2 separate regions of the Homo sapiens genome follow, and region 2 is linked to region 1. Evidence: fine-mapped QTL for protein levels in blood plasma. A gene starts in region 1. The other region holds a variant in brackets. All regions are shown on one strand. Distances are from middle to middle. Region 1 holds the start of BANK1 (B cell scaffold protein with ankyrin repeats 1). Region 2 overlaps BANK1 (B cell scaffold protein with ankyrin repeats 1).

Evidence for each region. A credible set is the group of variants that fine-mapping cannot tell apart. PIP is the chance, under the fine-mapping model, that this variant and not a neighbour inherited with it causes the effect. Protein levels are from antibody-based Olink assays in UK Biobank. Linkage for the fine-mapping came from a reference panel and not from the study's own genotypes, which makes the PIPs less certain.
Region 2: its variant is the best candidate, but not a certain one, in a credible set for the plasma level of the BANK1 protein (UK Biobank, PIP 0.51). The variant lies in the coding sequence of BANK1. If it changes the protein, the assay may bind it differently, which can mimic a change of level.

What each region holds. Positions count from the first base shown.
Region 1 is chr4:101,789,093-101,792,009 of GRCh38, reverse strand. It overlaps BANK1 (B cell scaffold protein with ankyrin repeats 1), which reads right to left and starts at 1,280. Exons shown (of 17, transcript NM_017935.5): 1 at 1,060-1,280. The coding sequence starts at 1,129. RefSeq lists a silencer at 1,004-1,193.
Region 2 is chr4:101,828,539-101,831,455 of GRCh38, reverse strand. It overlaps BANK1 (B cell scaffold protein with ankyrin repeats 1), which reads right to left. Exons shown (of 17, transcript NM_017935.5): 2 at 1,250-1,648. Among named protein-coding and RNA genes, the nearest start is that of BANK1, 39 kb to the right of the region's middle. The variant C/G (reference allele first, on the strand shown) is at 1,599.

The sequences.
Region 1 (2,917 bases):
TTTATTTATAGATGCTAGCAAAGTCTGCTCTGCTGAAGACCATCAGAGCCACAGTTTTCAAGAATGTCAATATGCAATAGTTAAAATATTAATAATATTAAGTTATGGGCTCTAAGTCCTTTCTTGTCACTTTTCATTGACACAAATATACTTCTTATTTAACTGAAAGCAATCCCTAAAGCTTATTTATGTAAAAATGCACTAGCCAACAGAAATAGCTACAACCAAAATTACATTACCTAAAAAATTCTAGAAAGGTATGAGAAATTTATTTCTATTCAGCAAATTAAGAAACTTTCACTCAGAATATACTTTCTTGTTGCATTTCTCACCACGAACACTCCAGTAATATTAATACCTAAGTGAAGTTTTTTAATTTAAAAAACATTTTTATATCACTGAGTAATTTGCAAATGCATTTGAAATGCTTCAAAAAGAACTAAATAAAACTGCCTTAACGTCCATTTGAAAATATAAATCTACTTCTGCATTCAACCAAGTTGACCGTTTTCCTTTGACCAAGTTAGTAAAGCCAGTGGAGTAGGGAGGTGGTGTTGGTAGAGTTTCTCTGCAAAGCCACCTGCCAAGAAGCAGGGCTACCAATTCACCAGGCTGGGATTTGTCAGGCCGGGCAGGTAAATGCGTGACGCTACACATGAGCGGTTTTTCTGTGCTTACCGACTGTTGAAAATAATTACGTATAATTTTAAACGCGCATTGCTTTAAAACAGGTTGCAAAGTGATTTTAGAAACTACAGGACCCTGACCCGGGTGCTGGGGAAAGTTCCAGCTCCTCAGAAGTTGCAGACACTGAGGGTAGCCCGCTGGCCAGAACTCCCAGCGCGCTCCCTCCTCGTGGCGTCCAGATGCCCCTCAGAGAAGTCAGGGACAGAAGAACCCTCTGGGCTGCCTGGCGGCAGGATAAAAAGGAGAAGCCCTGTCTCAGGGACGCCCTGGCCTCAGTGCCCGAGTGCAGTTGTCTAACGATGGCCCGTGGTCTCCGCAGAGCCCCGTAGCCCGGCCTCGGCGTCAAGCCCCTCCGAATGCGCGACTACCCACCTGGGGGCGCTGGGCCGCAGGGGGCGGGGTCCGGGCTCCCAAGCCCCTTGCCTGGCGCTGCTGGCAGCATTGTGGCGGTTGAAGCCGAGGGGCCTGCGCACTGCTGCCCGCCGAGCGCTACCTGGACTCTCCCGGCCAGAGACTCCCCGCGATTTTCTCTTCCTTTGGCCCTCGGCTCTCCCCAGCCCGCTTGCCACCCGCGGAGGCTGCGGCCAGGTCTCAGGAAACGCAGCCCCGGGGCTCATGCCCGCAAGGCCAGGGCTCCGCTCTGCTGGGCGCCCAGAGGAAGTGAAACTGCTCAGGGGCCTGCTCTTACATCCCTTCTCAAAAGGCCGCTTTGGTTTCTTATAACACTTCTGCGCCTGTTTCCTTCCTCACCTTTTCATCCTAGGATATATTTAGACCGCTGTTATTGTAGCTCTCCTTGTCCCTTTCTAGGTCTTCCATACTGCCATACTGCCCCCACTTCCAGGCAGACGTAGGGAAACCAGAAGTGAACATTTGCTGGAAAGAAAGAATAATTAGATAGATAGATGAGTAGGTACACAGATGATAGATACATACATATAGAAATGAAGATACAGATAATACTGTAACTTTTAAAATATTTCATTTTACACAGACTTTCTAGGCTAGGTTCATAAATTGAAAAGTGATTTAAAATTCCATATAAAATGTATTTCTTACTCCTGCTCCAACTCAAAAATAGACCCAGTAAAAAATTATTTATGGCTCTAAATACCCTCTCCAAACAAGAGTTTGTTTGCTTGTTTTTAAGATGGAGATATATCAAAGGAGTTGTCCCAGAACCTTAAAGTGAATGTCTCTCTCTCAAGCATGTCTAAACTAGTCATTTGCCTTTTGAAGTTGAATATATTTTTTGAATATCAATTTGGTAATAATACATAGTTTAAATGTTCCTCTCCTCTTCCTATAAAAGGAAGGCTTTCTTTGAAACTTTCTCTCGGATGAAGTGCTTTTTAGTAATAATATAAATATCAAGTATCAAAAAAAGTTAATTTTTTCACATAAATGAACTTATTAGAACTTTATAACATAATGTAGAAAACTTGGAGAAGTATGCGAAATGTCCAAAAAACTTGAAAACAATTATAGATTGTATTGTATTTATCTGGTTTCCAGTAGTTTCTTTAACATCATTATTAATTTTATGTTGATTTTCTGAACTTTATATAATGGAACAAAAGATTTCATCTAACTTATGAAATATTATATTGAAAAAAATGGTTGTCTTCTATATATGCCTGTTAACAGAGAGACTTCAGTGTAATAGGCAAAAACAAATTTGGATTGCAGGGTTTGGGTGTTGTTCAGTGTTTCAGAAACTCAATTCTTAGGAAAGTATGTCTTAAACCCATTGGAGAAAAGAATATTCTAACTGATGCATCTGCTGGTATACGTATTCCTGACAAGAGCTACTTTAGCCAACATGAACACTCCAGATGATGCTCCCCAATTAAGTATCCAGATCTTCAAAGGCACCCATTTATGCACACGAAAACTTGTTAATAAAGACAGTGTTCAGATAGGAACTTGTATCTGTCACATATACAGGACAGCCTTCTTGTATGAAGAGCCCTGGATTGGAAGTCAGAAGGTTGCAGCTGCCATCCTGACTCTGCTCCACAATATCTGGGTGTTTGGAGCAATTCTTAATATTTCTGAGCCTTGCGTATCTCATCTAATTTATTCATTATTAATGAATAAATTAAAATTACTGTATTCGAGTTTCTGCCAGATATAAAATGTTATAACACTGTCTCCTAATAAAACTATAGAAAATAAGATTTATAATATGAAAATTAAGTATATTTTCAGAAGCTCATTTCCACTACTT
Region 2 (2,917 bases), 39 kb before region 1:
GAAGAGGTTACAATACTGGAAAATAAGAAGGAATTTTGGTAAGAAGAAAGTTGTTTTCCACCAGGGAAGAAGTATAGTGAGAAAAGCTTCCAGCGAACCATTTGGGGTTGATATAGGTTCCCTGGATTTACAGAACTCCAACACTTATGCTGGATCCAGGTTTGGAAATTACTAAAGGCAAGAGACTGTGGCTGTACTGCTGCTCTGAGGGCAGGATGGTGATAGCTACTCTGGGAATGGCTTGTATGCCCAGAGTTTGTCCGGAAAAAGATAAATGAAGATAAAGGAAGGTTTATCTTCAGATAGATGTGGACAAGGTAGGAGAAACACCCAGCCAGGAGGTATCTCAGTGCCATTTTCATCATGAGAGACACATGAAGGAGCCATAGAACTCAACAGTAAGAATCTATATGCATTAGACAACCACAGCTATGATCTTAGAGAAGAGGGACTATTTGACTTATTAAGAAACTGCAAGAGAGACATTCCCAGCGAATAAGGAATTTCCCAAAACTCAGAAATTTGCTCCAAAAAAAATAGCCAACTTTTAATCTGGTGTGGCCAAGATAAAATGATAGCTTCACTCCTTCCCTTTAAGCCATGAAACCATAGTTAGAAGACTGGGAGTTGAGAGCAAAGGGCAGACTAAGGAAACCAGGGAAGCAGCTGACCACAGCACCCCTTTCACACCTAGCAGAATAAAACTGTGGAAGGGAGAAGCTTTAACATTGTAAGCTGCAGCATTTTTATTATTACATGGAAATGTAATTAATTAATTAATGGGACCTGGTATTTTCTTTTATCTAAAGGTTACATGCTTAAAATTTTAAAAGCTCTGTAATTGTAACCCAGACCTTCAAACCTTGAACTGCTACTGACTGGTAACACCACTAGAGTATATTAACTCATGCCTCACCAGTTACATAAGAAACCAGCTTCCAGAACCAAACTGTCATATGACTTGAGCATACCATACTTGTTCTGCCATGATCTCATCCAGGCTGCCCTAAAGAATATATTTATAAGCCATGTTTAGAACAAGGAATAAGCCTTGATTGGAATAGAGCTAAAAATTAAGAAACTTAATGTATTTTGTGGACAGTACAACATACTGTTGAATAAAATCAGCTCTCATTTTTCTTATTCCTATCCTGACACCAGTTATTGGTTCTAAAACAACTTGCAATTCTTTAATTACAAAAAAAAAAAAACAAATAAAAATAAAACAAACAAGGTTTGGCAACACTACCTTTGAATATGATACTCTGGATTACAGAGATGTAGTCTTCAGGTTCCTGTTCAGTTGAGATCTCCCATCTGCTTTGAGAGATATTTAGTAATTCATAGAGCTGATCTGAACTCTTCACTCCACAAAGCAAAGTAACTACACTTTTTGGTGAATGAAGTATCTTTTCCAGAAACTGACATTTCTTTGGAGTTAGGTCTCTAAGCAGGCTATTTGATAATATCAAAAGTTTACATTTGTAAGACGTTAAGTTCAGCAACTCCAAATGCCGAAAAGAGAAATTCTCCAAGCGATATAACAGGATGGCTTCCCTTTTCACAACATGTAAAAATACTTCTGTCAAGTACAGAGC[C/G]CATTCCTCAGCATCTTCTTCATATATCATTATTATATCTTTTGTATTTCCTGGAAAAAGAAAAAATATTTTCTTATATTTGCAATGCTATCAGCAGGTTAAATTATTATTTCTCAAAAATTTTAATATGCTCACTAGGCAATATATTAATTTGCTTATACCAGAGAAAAACTCTATGAAAGTCCTTCATAGTATAAAAAATCATAGATTAAATAAAACTAGAATTCAAAGACAAGTTGATTTAAATTTTAAAAAGAATGATATGAAAGAGTATAATAAATAAGGAAACGAGCCAAAACAATACCATTACCCAGATAATAAATAAATTAGAAAAAGAAATAAGTAGATTAGACATAGATAATGTTATAGATAATATTTTAATTTCTGGCCCAAAAGAAAAGCTTGATATTTTCATAGTAAATCAAAAAAAAACAAAGGAGGAGAAACAGAACAAGGCTAACACAATTGTTGAAAATACGATATATTTAGTTGAGAGTCAAAAACAGAAAAGATTCAGTATAAGGATGATCCAAAAGCCTGACGTAGAAGAGAATAATATACACATTAAAACACTGTAAAACATGTAATTTTTAATAATTTTTAAAATCCTTGAAATAAGAAAGATAAAGGAACCAGCTCTATGGATCAATGTGAAACAATCAGGCTCCAGCTAAAACTGTTAAAGAAAACAGATCTTGCCCGGCGCGGTGGCTCACACCTGTAATCCCAGCACTTTGGGAGGCTGAGGCGGGCTGATCACGAGGTCAGGAGATCGAGACCATTCTAGCTAACACAGTGAAACCCCATCTCTACTAAAAATACAAAAAATTAGCTGGGTGTGGTGGTGGGTGCCTGTAGTCCCAGGCACTTGGGAGGCTGAGTCAGGAGAATGGCTTGAACCCAGGAGGCGGAGTTTGCAGTGAGCGGAGATTATGCCACTGCACTCCAGCCTGGGCAACAGAGTGAGACTCTGTCTCAAAAAAAAAAGAAGAGAAAACAGATCTTGATTAAATTGTCCTTAACTTAATGATAATTATAAAATTTCTTCACATATCCAGGAAAGAAAACAAAGTCACCACAATAAGAGAAATGTGAGGTTGGTCTTGATTTCTTTAGAGCATTTTCAAGGCCAGATGAATTATAAGAAAATTTTTACAAAACTAATTTTCACAGTATATTCATACTATAAAATATTGCATAACAATGAAAAAGAATGTAACAATGCTACATGCAACATGGATGAATCGAAAGACATAATATTGAGTGAAAGAAGAAAGAGTATATATTGCATAATTGTATTTATGTAAAGTTCCAAAGCA